Regions from separate parts of the Homo sapiens genome. Here region 2 is linked to region 1. A link means that fine-mapping ties the variant in region 1 to the expression of a gene that starts in the linked region. Tissue or cell type: monocytes after Pam3CSK4. Region 1 holds a variant in brackets; the other region holds the start of a gene. All regions are shown on one strand. Distances are from middle to middle.

Region 1 (8,340 bases):
GCTGGGATTACAGCAGAGAACAAAATCCCTGCCCACAGCTTTGACAGTCCATCAGGGGAATAGGTTGTAGCAAATAGAAAGCACTCAATAAAGTTTTTATATTGCTGTGACTAGTAGTAATTACTGGGTGGCTACCTGTGTTGGGAAAACAGAGGGTAAAGGTAGCCTGAACAGGTAAAGGGAAGTGCCTGCGTCCTGGGGTGCTTCAGCCCAGGTGGGATTATGTCTCCTAAGGGACAGAAGCCTGGCCTGGAGCTGGAGGAAAGGGAAAACAAAGGGAATGCAACATCCTTCTGAATTTCTCACCATTCAGTGGGCAATGCAGAGCTCACAGTGTGTGTGTGTGTGTGTGTGTGTGTGTGTGTGTGAGAGAGAGAGAGAGAGAGAGAGAGAAGTGGGGTAGGGGAGTAGGGAAGAATGATACAGGAGAGACTGTGGCAAAGCAAACAGGATTTTGCTGCTCTCAAAGAGCTTACAGCCTAGTAACCAAGATGGCTTACAGTGAAAAATGATTTCAGAGCAATCCCGAGGAAAATATCCACAAATGCATTGTGATGTGGTGTCCTGGAGCACCAGTTGGGAGGAGGAGGAACTGGGGAAGGAGGTGAGCCTTAGTCCACTGCCTTTCCTTGCTTAGCAGGTCTCAGCTCCTGCGCTCAGCTCCAGAAAATTCAGGAGCTTCCCCACGCTGCTTCAGTGTCCTTCACTGTGCAACTGCAGCACTCCCTGTATAGATCTCAGTGCCTACAACTGACTGTCTTTGACTCAAGTGAGAGCTCTTGAGAGCACGAGCTGTGTATTATCCACCTCAGCATCCCTAGCACCCATACGGGACCTGTCACATTAACTGTGCCCCTTAACTATTTGCTGAAGGAATTAAGGAACAAGAGATGTGTCAGATGGGATGGCGGAGGGAAAGCCTCATAGAAAAGTGGATGTGGAGCTGACATCTGAAGTCACTGCCTGTCAGGGTAGCTATAAAGGAGGGAAGCAGAGTTGGATACTGATGTGAGGAAGAGGAGAGGAATGGAGAGATGGGATTTTGTGTTGATGGGCAGGGTGGCAGGAAGCCAGACACCTTGGTTCGGGAGTGGAAAAACCATGTTGAGAAACACTAAGAAATGTGAATGGGAGAATTAGAGGGAGTGGGGGAGAGGATGGAGGAAGAGTGTTGAATATGGTTCCAGGTGGAGGAATTCATTCATTCGTTTATTCAGAAGCTGTTCTCCTAGGGCACATTCTGTGCCCAGACTGTGATTAGAAGTGAGGTGAGGCATCTCAGATGGGTGCTGTGGTTCATGCCTGTAATTCCAGCACTTCAGGAGGCCGAGGTGTGTGGATTGCTTGAGTCCAGGAGTTCGAGACCAGCCTGGGCAACACAGCAAAACCCTGTCTCTACAAAAAATACAAAGATTAGCGGGGCATGGTGGGGCGTGCTTGTCATCCCAGCTATTCGGGAGACTGAGCTCGGGAGGACGGCTTGGGCCCAGGAGGTGGAGGTTGTAGTGAGCCCTGACCACACCACTACATTCCGTCCTGGTGGTGAAGGTTGCAGTGAGCTATGATTGTGCCACTGCACTTCACCCTGGGTGACAGAGTGAGACCCTGTTTCAAAAAAAAAAAAAAAAAAGTAGTGAGGCATCTGTGGAAGTCTTCAGATCATTTCCATGACCATGGAAATGCTGTTTGGAGCCAGGCCCTGGAGATGGAGAGGAAGGTTCACACACTTGTGCGTGCAAGTTAAAGCCTGAATGAAGATTTAAAAAGTGTGTAGGACGGATGGGAGCAGGAGAGAGGCTAGAAGACACTTGCAATAACCCAGGTGTGAGGCAACCCAGGAATGCGGAGAGGACCGAGAGATCACAGGGGGAGGCCTCGCAAGATGAACTGACACATGGGATGGCGGCAGGGATAGGGATGGGGCCCTGGGGAGAGAGCGTGGCAAGTTCTCAGCATTCGTCCGGGAAGTCGATGGTGTGTCATTTGTCTAGGTGAGGAGATGGATGAATTCCGTCTGGGGCATGTTAAGGGTCAGGGAAATGGTCATGTGGAAGGGTGCGCCTACCAAGCTGGAGGAGAGGTGCTGCAACTTCTTTCTGCCTTTGTATCATTCAGACACACTGTGTTCACTCATCAGTGGTTCTCAAAAGGAGAGGAGCACACCAGACTCTTAAGTAAGGGTGTGTGTGCTTGTGTGTGGGGAGGTGGGGGGATGGTCTGAAAACTCTCCCCCGGAGATAAATATATTCCTACCAGGGGTGCTGTCTCCTCACCTCCCTCTTTGGGAATCACTGGCTTCTACTAGAGTGGAAGACAGATGTATCATTAGATCGATCAGTTGATCCATATTTATCTGCTCCCAGTCTGGAGGTCTGGTTCTGGGAGCTGAGAGGACACCAGGGGAGGATAAGACACTTTCTGACCAAGACATTTTTTGATCTCTCATCTTATAAGGTTCGTGGTCACTTTGGGGAGATCATATCTGTCACCCAACATAACCATATTATGATAAGAGCCAAAAGTAGATAGGGTCAGTTCACGTGCTTCGAGTTCACAGGGACTATGGGTCTAAGGAGCCGGGGTGGAGGAAACAGACATCGTCAATGGTGGCTTCACGGGAGGGAGATGGGATCTCAACTGGGCCCTTGGAGGAGAAGCTGCCACGACCTCCCCCAACACCTTGACATTAAATGAACAGACACATGAATGAGGGGGAAAGGAAGACTAATTGGGTCCCTGCAAGGTGGCTGGATCGGGGTCAGACCACAAGGCCGATCTCAGCGTCGCCTCCCCACTCTGCAGCCCCAGCACAGGAAGTCACACTTTAAAGCCTCCTCTGGCGGAAATTGTGGGGGAGTTGGAGGGGTGTTGGGCCACCCCCTCAACTGTCTCTCCACAGGCACCCCAGCTTCCTGCCCTTCTGCTCCAGGCTGGAGTCTGGGCCTAAAGAGCTCACCTCCTGTTTCTCCTGTTTTGCTTCATTTACGCAACTGCTGAGGACTGGGCTTACTGGGGCCAGCTGGTGCCAGCAGTGGTGCCCAGTGGTGGGGAGTCTGAGGGCCCTGGCTCCTAGGGATCAGAGAGGGCTGACCTGGAGCATTCTGGGGGCCAGGGGAAGCCTAGGAAGCAGGGCTGGTTCTTCCATCCGGCATCCCTTCTTGCCTGCTCCCTCGTTCCTGGAAGTGGGTGTTCAGGGCTCTGGAGGCTTTCCTGTATTGCCAGTGGGCTTGGGGAGGGTCTGTGGAGACTCAGAACTGGCCTTGTTTCCTAAGGATTGTCTGGGGACCCCAGGGAGGCCCCCAAACCCAGCACAACTGGTCAGAACCAGCCAGGCTGTGGGAATGCGGTGAACCCAGGGTGGGAGGGCAGCCTTGGCTTGCTTCCTGCTGGGACTGGGGAGTGTTGGGGGATGGAGTGAGAGCTCACGGAATGGGTTTAGCTGTTGGAGACTTGTTGAACTGGGAGGAGGAGCTGGGGCGGGGCCTCAGCTAAAGGCCGCTGAGGGGCTAGGAGGAGCCAAGTGGCCCTCAGGGAAGGGAGGGCACAGACCTGATGGGCGGAAGCCAGGGTCGAGGGAGACTTCCCTTCGGGATGGAATGGGGAGAGGGAGGCATTTCCCGGAACATGTGGGCCAAGTGGGACAAGGGTCTGTGGCCTGGCTCTTTGCATGGGGAGGGGATGGATGGGGGTTGAGTGGGGATGGGAAGGAGGGACTTGGCCATAGGAAGAAGGGATTAGATGGAGTCCCACTTGCATGCAGGCTGGTGCCTTCTGCCTTTCTGCTGACTCATGACCCTTGAGGAGCTGGGGAAGCTGCTAGTTCCCTCTCCCCTCCCTAGGTCTCCCTCCCTCTGGCCTGAGTCACTGGGGCGGAGTTGCTGGGAAAAGATTTCCCTTTCCCGGATCTGACTTAACCCCCAGAGTGCTGGAAAGAGAAGGGAACACGTGGCCTGAGAAAGCCTCTCTCCCTCCCTCCCTCCAGGGAGGCTCATCCCCCACTGGCCAGAGGTCCCTGAAAAGCTCCCTTTAAGGCTGTCTGGGGCTGGCGTCCCCCAGTTCTTCATCATGACTCTGCCTCAAGCCCCCTGGATGGGATTCAAAGTACCAGTGACCTTAGGTGCTCCAGTGGCTTCTTCGGGGAAAGGAACCACACTTTCAGGACTGGGAAGTTCTTCCCATCACCACCCCAAACCCTTCCTGTTGCCCTGGAAGCCCCAGTCCTGTTCTCAGCAGAGGTGGCACGGTGTTGGCTGGTGCGGGCAGGGGAAGGTTGTTGTCCTCTGAGCAGGGGCACACGCCTCCACCTGCGGGGGCTGCTGTTGTGTTTCTGTGTGTGGCTTCCCCTGTTTGCGGCTGAGGCTTGAACTTCCGGGCCTGCACAGCTTACAGCTGCAGCGTCTCCCCGTGGCTGA[C/G]TCAGGGTGACTGGCCTCCTGCTCCGAAATGTGGAGTTGGTGAGGCTGGGTGGCTGTGGGCTGCCTGACCCTCCTTCCCTGCCCTAGGGTTTCTGTGATCTGGTGAGTCAGTTGCTCCCCAGTGTTTAACAGACATTGAGGACACCCTCTTATCTTTACACAAAGTGTCTCTTATAGTAGAAAAAAAAAATGAAGCCCAGGGAAAACCAGAAATGAAGCTGGCAGAGATCAAAGTCCAAGTTAGAGCTAAATATTCACTCCTGGCTTTGCTTTCCTGGCACTGATGCCGGAACAGGACAAGCCATTTAGCTGCTGTGGGGTTGGCCTGAGACTGCAAAGCACACCTTCCAGAATGCCATGGTGTGCAGGGGGCTCCAGGACTCCCCAGCACGCCCTCAGCTCTGACCTGACAGTCATCCAAGCTGGGTCGCTAGCCTTGGCCAGCTCTATTTGCCTATGTCCTGCACACCTTTGCCCACTCCTGCCCCCGTCTCAACTTTGTCCCCCGTCTACCCATGCAGGATCCCCAACCTTTCCCTTTTACTCTCCTCCCCATTTGTCCTTGCCAACCCCGGGTGTTTGTAAATTTTGAGGTGGAGGGGATGGGCCAGGGAATGTGAGGGCGGAGGCAGATTGAGGTTTGATACAAACATGTAAATAAACTTCCTTCTTCTGTCCACTCCCCAGGAGTGGTGCTCACGGGAACATCACTCGCCCCCACCGCCAGCTGACTTTTTCAGAAAGCTTTTCATGGTGTAACATATTCCTGGGATGTGCATAGATCCTCATTGTTTACCTCTGTGAATGTTCGCAAAGCGATCACACGGTGAACCCAGCACCCAGATGGAGAAACACCGCCCCAATCTTTAGGGCTGCTTGTTGGAAGAAGGGGCCATCACTGAAGTAACCTGCCAATTCCCAATCAAAAACACATCCTTTCAACATCTGCCCTGTGTCCAGCACTGTTAGCTGCTGTGGGGGATTTCACAGTAAGGATAAAATACAGGGCTGGGCTCACGCCTGTAATCCTAGCACTTTGGGAAGCCAAGGTGGGAGGATCACTTGAGCCCAGGATTTTGAGACCAGTCTGAGCAACGTAACAAGACCCTGCCTCTACTAAAAATAAAAAAAAATTAGCTGGGCATGGTGGTTCACGGCCGTAGTCCCAGCTATTCAGGAGGCTAAGGTGGGAGGACTGCTTGAGCGTGGGTGGTGGAGGGTGCAGTGATTGCATCACTGCACTCCAGCCTGGACAACAGAGCAAGATCCTGCCTAAAAAAAAAAAAATACAGCTTAGATCTGGGGCCTACTAGCTTTGAGTTGAGGGAACAAAAATGAACACACAGGACAACTAGAGAACAATTAAGCATCAGATTGTATGGCCCCAACTGTCTAAGTTTCAAGGAAGAACTCTAAACTTAGTGAGTGGCGTGGCCTGGGCGGAATGTTTCACTGAGGAAGGACTTGAGCCAGGGAAGTTTTAGATCTGCTACCCCTAAGCTTCCCATCCCTCCCTCTCTTGATGGTGTCTCCTCTATCTGATTCTTCCCCAGGTGCTCCTGGAGCTGTTGGTGGGAATATACCCCTCAGGGGTTATTGGACTGGTCCCTCACCTAGGGGACAGGGAGAAGAGAGATAGTGTGTGTCCCCAAGGAAAATATATCCACCCTCAAAATAATTCGATTTGCTGTACCAAGTGCCACAAAGGTAGGGGCAAGTGGAAACGGTGAATGCCCTCAGGTCTGGGGTGCTGCTTCTTTCTCTGCTTCTTCCAGTTGTTCTTCCCTAACTTTGCTGTCTCTCCTGGGCTGGGATTTTCTCCCTCCCTCCTCTCCTAGAGACTTCAGGGAATCGGCCCTGGCTGTTGTCCCTAGCATGGGGCTCCTTCCTTGTGTTCTCACCCGCAGCCTAACTCTGCGGCCCCATTCACAGGAACCTACTTGTACAATGACTGTCCAGGCCCGGGGCAGGATACGGACTGCAGGGAGTGTGAGAGCGGCTCCTTCACCGCTTCAGAAAACCACCTCAGACACTGCCTCAGCTGCTCCAAATGCCGAAAGGGTGAGTGTGCACAGGCAGGAGAGTCAGGCGGGTCTTGAGTGGTGTGTGGGTGCCTGTCTATGTGCAGGCTGGTGGGTGTGGGCAGGAAGGTGTGTGTTTTGGTGGGACACTGCATGGATGTGAGTGTGTATTACAGAGACACACACTTAGGGGTATGTCAGGAAGGGGATGCAGGGACAGGAGGATGCAGGACTCATACCCCATCTTCTCCCCTCACCAGAAATGGGTCAGGTGGAGATCTCTTCTTGCACAGTGGACCGGGACACCGTGTGTGGCTGCAGGAAGAACCAGTACCGGCATTATTGGAGTGAAAACCTTTTCCAGTGCTTCAATTGCAGCCTCTGCCTCAATGGGACCGTGCACCTCTCCTGTGAGCGCAGCTCTCCTGAGGCCAAGCCCTCTCCCCACCCCAGGGGTTGGCCCCTTCCCCATGCGGTGGCACTTCCTTTCCTTCCCCCTCCTGTATTCTGTGGGTCTGACAACCAACTCCTCTCTGGCCGCCCCCACCCTGTCCCTCGTCACTTCCTCTGTCCTGTGGGGTGGGGGTGCAGGCGCTTCTCCTTTAGCTGTGCCGCACTTCTCCCTACAGGCCAGGAGAAACAGAACACCGTGTGCACCTGCCATGCAGGTTTCTTTCTAAGAGAAAACGAGTGTGTCTCCTGTAGTAAGTGAGTATCTCTGAGAGCTGCTGGGCACTGGATGGTGGCATGGGTTGGGACGGGTGACTGGTGGGAACCATTAGCTGGGCAACAGATGCCAGGATGCCCCAGAGTGCTCAGGGTCCTACTGGCTGAGTAGGAGACACTTCGTTAAGACACCAGGCAGTCCTTCCCCTTGCTCTTCAAATCTGAAGAAGTCTTTGAGGATGGAAGATCATGCCCCAAGGGCTGGCAGCCCTTCCAACTCAGATATGTAGATTCTTGGATCTACGATAGCTCATTGGTTCTAGGACATACACTCTTATAGCTCTGAAATCAAACCTCCTATAACTGGTGACTCATCATGGTTGAATTGGCAGCTCTGTTTGCGTCTGGGTAGTAATGTAAAGAAAAGTGCCTTTTATTCTTGATGGCGTCTTAGGTTTGATGCAATATGGTATTTCCTCATTAGTCACTGTCCAGGCCTCCTTACTCCTGGCTCCACAGAGGCTGTTCTTGTCACTCACTTGCAAAGAATAAACTCTGAGGGCTCTCAGAGTTTGAACCCCAGCATAGCCACTTACTGGCTATGTGACGTTGGGCAAGTTTCTTAACATCTCTGAGCCTGACTTTTCTTTTGGTGTTTTTTTTTTTTTTTTTTTTTTGAGACAGGGTTTCACTCTGTCACCCAGGCTGGAGTGCAGTGGTGCAACCGTGGCTCAGCCTCCACCTCCAGGGCTCAAGCCATCCTCTTGCCTTAGCCTCCTGAGTAGCTGGGATTAGAGGCACACACCACTACACCCAGCTAATGTTTTACTTTTTGTAGAGACAGGGTCCTACTATATTGCCCAGGCTGGCCTCGGACTCCTGGGCTCAAGCGATCTTCCGCCTCAGCCTCCCAAAGTGCTAGGATTACGGGCATGAGCCACCACGCCTGGCCTGGGCCTTAGATTTCTTATATTTAAAGTAAGCATAATGACATTCATTTGGTGAATTTGTGAGAACCAAAAACAAAGAAACAAACAAAACCTACAACACGTCTGACACAAAACTATTTATTTTCCATTAATCTTCTTTTTTTTTTTTTTTTTTTTTTTTGACACAGAGTCCTGCTCTGTCGCCCAGGCTGGAATGCAGTGGCGCGATCTCGGCTCACTGCAACCTCTGCCTCCCAGATTCAAGCAATTCTCCTGCTTCAGCCTCCCAAGTAGCTGGGATTACAGGCACGT
Region 2 (8,000 bases), 25 kb after region 1:
GACACTTCAGAGGGACCTTCAAGTGAATCAGAACAAGACTTAGAGAACCAGTGGTCTCAGGCACCACTTTGACATTTGCCTATAAAATGGCATTTTTTATGAAGCAGCATGGCTTACATTTTACAGGTTTCTTTTTTTTTTCCTTTTGAGACAGAGTTTTGCTCTTGTCACCCAGGCTGGAGTGCAGTGGCGCAATCTCGGCTCACTGCAACCTCCACCTACCGGGTTCAAGCGATTCTCCTGCTTCAGCCTCCTTAATAGCTGGGACTACAGGTGCCCGCCATGACACCCAGCTAATTTTTTTTTACATTTTTAGCAGAGACGGGGTTTCACCATGTTGGCCAGGCTGGTTTCGAACTCCTGACCTCAGGTGATCCGCCCGTCTTGGCCTCCCAAAGTGCTGGGATTACAGGTGTGAGCCACCACGCCCGGCCCATTTTACAGGTTTCTTTGGTACCAAGAATGTGAGCAATAGACACTCCTGACCCTCACTCACTCCATCTGGATGTGGCTTGGGAGGAGAGGTGAGGCTCACAGTGGCAGTGAAGGATGATGTGGCACTGAGGATAGAGAGAGCATACCTGACTCTCAGCAACTTGGTAATTTGACTTGGTAGTTTTCAAAAACTGAAAGCTCAATATCAATCGTTTATCCACATTTAATCAAAGTGTCTCAAGTCAAAGTCCCTGGTTGCCATGCATGGACCAAAGAGAGATATATCCCTGAGAGGTCCTAGGCAGAGCCATGTCTGACTGGCAGGCAGCAGCCTCCTGGACCTGTGTTCTCAGCTCCCGGAGCTTGCTGGTCATCTGCGGAGCCATCACAATTGGGGCCGTATGTGTGGGGATGGGAGGAGAGGGACCCCCTTACCTTGAGTTTGGGGGAGTGAAGCAGGCCAGCCCCCACATGGCCCCCGTGCCTCTTCTCGGGCTCTGGATCTCGCAGTCTCATGGGTGACAGGCCTCGGGCCTGGCCAGAACCCCTGGCAAAGGGGACATACTGCTGGAGGCGTCGGCGACTGGGATCCTGGGAGAGGAGCAGGGGAAGTTCTGGGGGTGCCTCCCTTTCCCCAGAAACCCCAGAGAGGTAGTAGGGGGGCAGGCTTGGCTCTAGATGTTGTTCCCCCACCCTGGTAAGTCGGGCTGGCTCACTTCTCCCTGCAAACCAGTTTGGTGTGGACTGCTCCTGCCCTGAGTCACAGCGGCCACTGCCGGCAAGGCTAAGCTGAGTGGGCAGAGGCAAGACAGCCTGGCTCCCTGAGTGGGCCTGGGGAAGAAGTGGGGCCTCCTGCCGAGCAGGTGCACAGCACACACATGCCTGGGCTCTGGTGTGTGTGCCCCCACTGCCTCCTGCTCTCCGTACCATGGGGGGTGCATGGACAAGGCGTGGTGCACACAGCATTCTGGTCTCTCGTAACTCTCCTTGTCTATGACCAGCCTCCCTCACACATGGGGACGAGGGCACTCACATGTGCAGCCTTCTCCCCAGGGGCGTGCAGCCTGCATCCCATCCAGCTGGGAGTGGCTGCCCTTCTGTGTGAAAGGCTGAAGCCACAGCCACACAGCTCCTCCCAGGGCAGGCCTGGTCACATTCCTTCATTTGCCTGTGGCCTGAATTACCCCACATACTTTCTAGTCTCCCTTCTCACCCACAGCCTAGGAAAGTCCCATCTCCAAAGGCAAAATTATCGTGCATTGAGGCAGGGGATGTCCCAGCCACAAGCAGAACTGTCCTCAAGGTGGAGGGGAAACCTGCAGGCTGAGGGACAGACCTGGCTTCCACACCCCTCTGCTTGGTTAGGACTGGAGGAGAGCCAGGCAGGTGGAGCCAGGGGTGGAGCCAAGGCAGGCACCCTCCTGTCCCTACCCACCACTGGAGGAGTAGGGACACCCTGAACCTTTGCTCATCTTCATCCTGACTCAGGGAGAGGCAGATCTCAGGAAGGCCTCAAACTCCTGCCAAGCAGAGGCGGGAGCCTGGGAGGCGCCAGCTCTGGGGTTTGATGACCTTACCCGCAGCTCTTTGTCTGAGACCTGTCTAACAGCACTCCTCGGAGGGCCTGGCTTCTCCTGGCTCCGCCTCTCCTGCCCAGCTGCTGGGACTGGGGTGTGATATCCCTGGAGCCTGGCCCTGTCACTGCCCTCCTCTTTCCCGCAACCCAGGAAAGAAGAGTAGGGTAAGGGGCAGGAATAGCTCAACCTCTGAACCTGTAAGGGGACAGAGACTCCACAGCCTAGGTGTCTTCCCTCCTGCCCCACCAGGTCACTTTTGGGGCACAGCCTGGACTCACCAGCACAGGGTATCCTCGGGGATAGAGTCTGCCAGCAGTGCTCTGAGCAGAGGCTCGATGCCGGCCCCCATAAGTCTCAATGCGGGAGGCCACGAGTCCTTGGAGGGGGCCCTCATGTGGAGGACCAAAGGCCTTCATCCCTTCTCTCCTGGGTCACCTCCAAAGGGCCATATCTTCAATGTCCAGGAGAAAGAGGTCCCCTAGGGCTGCAAGAGAGAAAAGAGGAATGGAAGGGCCATCCCCAATCAGTGAATGGCACCAGGCGGGAGACCAAGGCTGGTAGGGGGCCTGGGAGGGAGGGTATAGTGGGGGAGGAGAGGGCCAAGGGCTTGGTCACTTGTTGGGGGGAACATGGCTGCCTCATCTATGACTTGGTGGGAGTAGGGTAGGTCCAGGTACATATTGGGTAGGAAGCCCCTTGGAGATGTACCTCCTCTCTCACATGTGTGCATATTTGGGGTACAAGCTCCTGCACTGGTCTCAAATGGGAACAAGGGTCACAGACAGGTCTCGGGCTTTCTGGATACACCCAGGTGGGAGGGTTCTCCTTGCACCTAGATATAACCCCATCCCCTTCCCCATATAAAGCTTGGGAAAAAGCTGGAGGGAGGCCATGGTGGGTGGGGTGGGCTGGGAGTGGGGGTGGCTGGAGACAGCCCAGTCTGCCACCAGTTTTTGTACAGCCTGTAAGCCTTTACATATTTACATAGTTGAAACAACTGCTGCCCCCCCTGCAAAAAAGCCACCAATATTTTGGGACAAGTAAATATTACATGATATTCAAATTCAGTGTCCATAAACACAGTTTTGTTGGAATCCATCCTCTTCTGCTGGTCTCCTAATAACCTGTGACTGCTTCTTGCTAGTTGGGACAGACGGTGTAGGCCGCGAAGTCTCTAATCTTTACTGTCTGGCCTTTACTGAAAGGCTTGCCCATCTCCTACCTGAACCCTCCTGACCACAGACAGGGAGGTGAGTGGGGCCAGCTGTCCGGCCACTGCCCTTAGAGACCAGCCAAATAGAATTAGAGTTTCTCCAGTTTCGGGCTATATATTTGGTCCTCCCCAGACTCTGGGAATACCACCATGGAGCTGGGGGCCAGGCGTGGGGCTCCATCCCTCCCCCCTAAACCTGGAGGGAGGGCCCGCCCTCGAGTGGGCAGGGCCTGGAAGAGGAGAGGCCTCCTAAGGGGCGGTGGGCTCAAGAAGGCTGCGCAGGTGTTTGTGCCCCGACCGGGTGGGCCTGAGGTCCTGCCTCAGCCCTCCCTTACCTTCCTCCGATTCAGGAGCAGAGGAGGAAACGTTCGCTGTCCCTCCTGCCGCCTCCCAATAGTCCTCCCTCTGAGGGCGCTGTCTCCCTCGCACTGCTCCCTACCCAGGGTCCTGTCTCAGCCCAGCCCCCGGCTCCCCTCCTCCCGCCTTCGGGAGGCCAGGCCTTCCTTCCCCTTCGCCCCGGCTTCCAGGCCCCGGGTCCCGGCCGCCCCGCCCCCGGGCCGCGTAGCCCTCCCGCCGCTCACCTGTGCCCACAGGTGTCACCGCACCCGCTGCCCTGCGCCGCCCTCCCCGCCCGCGGGGCTCCCCGTCGCCGTCGGCTCCCCGGCGATGCCAGCCAGCCCCGATGCCCAGCCTGGGACTGGGATCGAGCGGCCCGCGGGAGCCGGGCAGCGCGGGTCCGGGCGAGGAGGGCGGGGACCGGGCTGGCCCCTCCCTACCGCCAGCACCGCTCGGGGCAGAGGGGCAGAGGGGCGGGGCCCTGGGGACCGAGCAGCCCCCGCCCTCACGCAGCCACCGCCTTCCCCGGAGAGGACAGCTCACGTGGCGGTGCCCTCCTTTCCCCTTTTCGGTCGCACCTGAACTCGACACCCGCCGGCCGAGCGGGAGGGCTGGGACCGCGCGCCCTCCACTCCGGGCCAGACCCCCGCGAGGCGCTGCAGTAATGAGGGCTGAGTAAGGGGCGGGGCGCCGCCGGGGGAGGCGGCGAGGGTGACAACCTGTGGCAGGCACCCCTCTCTCCTGCTGGTCGCGGCGAGTGGCCGGCCGTCCGGTCCTCCCCCTGCCTCGGCCTAGACCCCTAAGCAGGCAGGGAGCCCGCCTGCCAGCTGGAGGGGCAGGGGGCCCCGTCGCTGTGTGGAGTCCAAAGTGTGAGCCTTATCTCTCAGAGGACCGGCTGGCCTGCCTGGTGGAAGGTGATACTGGAAGGCTATCCTGGACTTTGCCTTTGCTCCAGGGATAGGCAGCTGAGGCCTGACCCGCACTTCTCCTATGACCTAAGACTCAGGTGGGGGCACCCTCCCAGTTCACCTGCAAATAAGCCCACTCCCGGCTACACCAGGGTCACCCAGCCCTTGCGGTGGCTGCTAAAATAGATGCTGTGGGGCCAGGCGCGATGGCTCACGCCTGTAATCCCAACACTTTGGGAGGCCGAGGCGGGCGGATCACAAGGTCGGGAGATGGAGACCAGCCTGGCCAATATGGTGAAACCCCGACTCTACTAAAAATACAAAAATTAGCTGGGCATGGTGACGGGCGCCTGTAGTCCCAGCTACTTGGGAGGCTGAGGCGGGAGAATCGCTTGAACCTGGGAGGTGGAGGTTGCAGTGAGCCAAGACAGCACTACTGCACTCCAGCCTGGGCAACAGAGTGAAACTCCATCTCAAAAAAAAAAAAAAAAAAAAAGAAAGAAAAAGAAAAAGATGCTGTGGAAGGACTGACACATGCTGGGCATTGCATGAAAGGACCATACTTTATTTTCTTTATTTTTAAAATTTATTTTTTAAAAAGAAAATAGAGACAATATCTTGCTGTGTGGCCCAGGATGGACTCCAACTCCTGGGTTCAAGCGATCCTCCTGCTTCGGTTTCCCCACCTTTTCACTTCTCCAAATCATGGCACCTCGTCTGACAGAAGCACTGGATATTTGAGATAGAAGTGTCCTGTGGATGTGTGGTCATTATAATCTCACAACCATGAAACCCAAGACCCTGTAGTTGGCAGGTGGCAGGTCTGAGGCTCCCAGCCCCTCACCCTGACTGTGGTCTATTTCCTGCCAATGAACTCAACAGTGATTGATACGGCTCCTTACTTCTTCAGAGCATCCTGAAGTTCAGGAAACACTTTCAGAAGCAGAATCTCCTTGAGTTGCCAGGGGAAAAGGCCTCTATTCCCTTTTCCCATCTAGGCTATGAAACGCATACATGATCAGAGTGTTCTAGTCCTCACTCGGACTCTGGTGACTCTATTTTGTTTGGAGGAGGAATCTATATCTTTGGGCAGTTTCTAATTTTGTATTCCCTGTGTCCATCCTCAAATCTGCCCTCTGGGATTCTCTTTCTCTGAGCTTGCTGTTGTGTGATTGCTCTGCTGGTTCAGAAGTGTCCTCTGTTCCTCCAGCTCCTTGAACCAGCCTGTCTCCTGCTCCTGGCCCAGCTGGTGGTGGGACTAGTTTTCGGGGGTGAAGTCAGGTGGGAAAGGAACTGCAGTGGCAAGAAACCAGAGTGTGCCTAGTTCCTAGCCCTTCCCTCTTCCCATTCACTGTGTGTGTGTGTGTGTGTGTGTGTGTGTGTGTGTGTGTGTGTGTGTGTGTGTGTGGTGAGAGCTAGACAGAGATAGAGAGATGTCCAGGGATGACAAGAGTAGCCATGAGGGAAAGAGTTAATAAGCCAGGAGAGGAGGTGGTGATTACGGACAGTATTAAATGACACCCCAGAGACAGCTGGTGCCAATGGCCCCTAGCTTCTCCTCCCAGTGTCTCCCAGAAGGAGTGGGAAGGAGGAATAAGAGGGAAGATGAAATTGAGAGAGCACCAAAGACAAGCCTGGGCTTACAGTGCTCTGGGGTGAGCTGGCTAGAGGGGCCCAGTGGCAGGTGGTGGTGGGTGGCGGGGTGGTTAACCCTTTCACTTCCCTCTAGGCGTTGAGGTCCAGTCTCCACCCACTACTGCCCCAGGGCCTGTCTTCAGCCTCCCTGGGAGGAGAGGTTCCCAGGGCAAGCTGGAGTCTAGAAGCCAGAGGTGTGGCCGGGCACAGGTGTGTGGCCTAGGAGGCAGGCCTCCATGTTCTGTTTCTTCTCTTCTGTCACTCTCACAGTCTCCACTTCCATGACTCCTCTGTGCTGCGGAGAGCACACTCCTATGGCAGGCTGAGGGGAGCATTCTCAGGGAGCTGAATGAAATGTAAAGAATTGGGAGGCTGGAGGCTTGGCCTCTGCCAAGTGAGGCTAGGGGCCATCTGGTCCTTGGACCAGAGTATGCCATCTGGATACTTCTCTTTATTCCTGGTTATCCTAGCCTTTCCTCACATGTCTAGCTTGAGTCATATGCCTCACTTTCTCCCAGGTAAGATGCTCCTCATTAGGCCCCTGGATTGACCCCATAACTGATGGTAAAGTGTGTGTCCACGGTCAGAGCTCTGAGGATCAAATGCTTCTGTCCAATAGCAGCCTGAGGATAACTGCCTGGGGTTGGCATAAGGGGCTCACCAGGCAGGAAGGTCAGGGAAACTCATTTGTGCCTCGACCTCTGCTGAGCCCATATCTCTCAGGGCAGAAGTGGGGACCATCTGGGCTAATGAGGGGCTGGCAGGCACTAGCAACAGGAGGCAGCTAATGGGAGCTGTGTCCTCCCTGCCCAGAGCGAGGCAGAAACTGAGGGTTCAAGCTAGGAGGCGCCAGGTCATGTGAGGCAGATGAATACCAGGAGGACAGGCCACAGGGCAAAGCCTCTGGTGCCTCAGGCCAGAACTGGTGCTTCCCGTTTCTTCTTTCGTCCCCTCCCCCTTCCTTCCACATTTACTGGCAATGTGTAAGACAGTAGGAATATAGAAAAGAATAAGAGGCCCTGACTTCTAGGGGCTTACAGACTAGTGGGGAGGCAGATGGGCGAAAAGAACATTGATATTTAAGTTAGACCAAGAACGACTAAGTCAGGAGCTGTGGGAACACTTTGGAGGGACCGGTTACTACATAGGGGAGCCAGGGATGGCTTCTAGAGGAGGCGAGCTTTGTGTTGGGACTCGAAGGATGAGTAGCAGTCAGCTGGGCTGAGAAGGAGGAAAGGACATTTCTGGAGGAGGGAAGAGCATGTTTAAAAAGAAACTGGGGAAGGGCAGACTTCCCTAAAGGCCTCCTGAGGGTCTACCCTGTTGGCTCCCTGGGAATATCCCAGCTTCCGAGCCGAGGGTCTCTGGGTGGTGGCTTAGGAGGACGAACCTTCTTTGTGGCCTTCCAGGACCTCCGCAGTTTGACCTCAGTTATACTTCCCTACTCAATCCCTAGATGTGTCCCCATTCCCTGGGTCGGCCTCGACTTTCCTGACTCCATGCCTTTGCTCAAGCTGTTCCCCTCAGCTGGGTGCCTTGTCCTCCGACTCCACTTACCTCCTTCGAGGTCTTTCCTAGGACTGCCTCCTTCACGAAGCCTTTCCTAATAATCCCGCAGCCAGGCTGATCACTTTCCTCCCTGCTTGCAGCTGCCTTGACCGCTATGTTTCTTTAAAAGGCACCACTCTTGTTCTCCCTACTAAGTTGATATTAGCATGTGCCACCTATGCCTGAGGGCAGAGACCAGCCTAACACAAGACTGGCATGGTGTTTGGGAATTGAACTGGATTGACTTGCTAGAGGACCCAGACAGAATGACTTGCAGATAGACTGGCCTGTACTGTTCTGTCCCTACCCAAAGGAACCACATTTGCTTTTTAGATACCTGGAATTCTT

The links. PIP is the estimated chance that this variant, and not a neighbour inherited with it, causes the effect.
Region 2: it holds the start of PLEKHG6, and the variant in region 1 is fine-mapped to the expression of PLEKHG6 in monocytes after Pam3CSK4 (Quach 2016, PIP 0.95). The same link has a PIP of 0.9 or more in monocytes.

What each region holds. Positions count from the first base shown.
Region 1 is chr12:6,331,870-6,340,209 of GRCh38, reverse strand. It overlaps TNFRSF1A (TNF receptor superfamily member 1A), which reads left to right. Exons shown (of 10, transcript NM_001065.4): 2 at 5,966-6,119; 3 at 6,345-6,473; 4 at 6,694-6,843; 5 at 7,063-7,141. Among named protein-coding and RNA genes, the nearest start is that of TNFRSF1A, 6.0 kb to the left of the region's middle. RefSeq lists enhancers at 2,890-2,939, 2,713-3,007, 3,000-3,089, 2,406-3,275, 5,018-5,888. The variant C/G (reference allele first, on the strand shown) is at 4,413.
Region 2 is chr12:6,306,655-6,314,654 of GRCh38, reverse strand. PLEKHG6 (pleckstrin homology and RhoGEF domain containing G6) reads right to left here and starts at 3,973. Exons shown (of 16, transcript NM_001384598.1): 1 at 3,807-3,973; 2 at 2,291-2,496; 3 at 871-1,026. The coding sequence starts at 2,428. RefSeq lists enhancers at 1,508-1,817, 4,439-5,159 and a silencer at 4,027-4,076.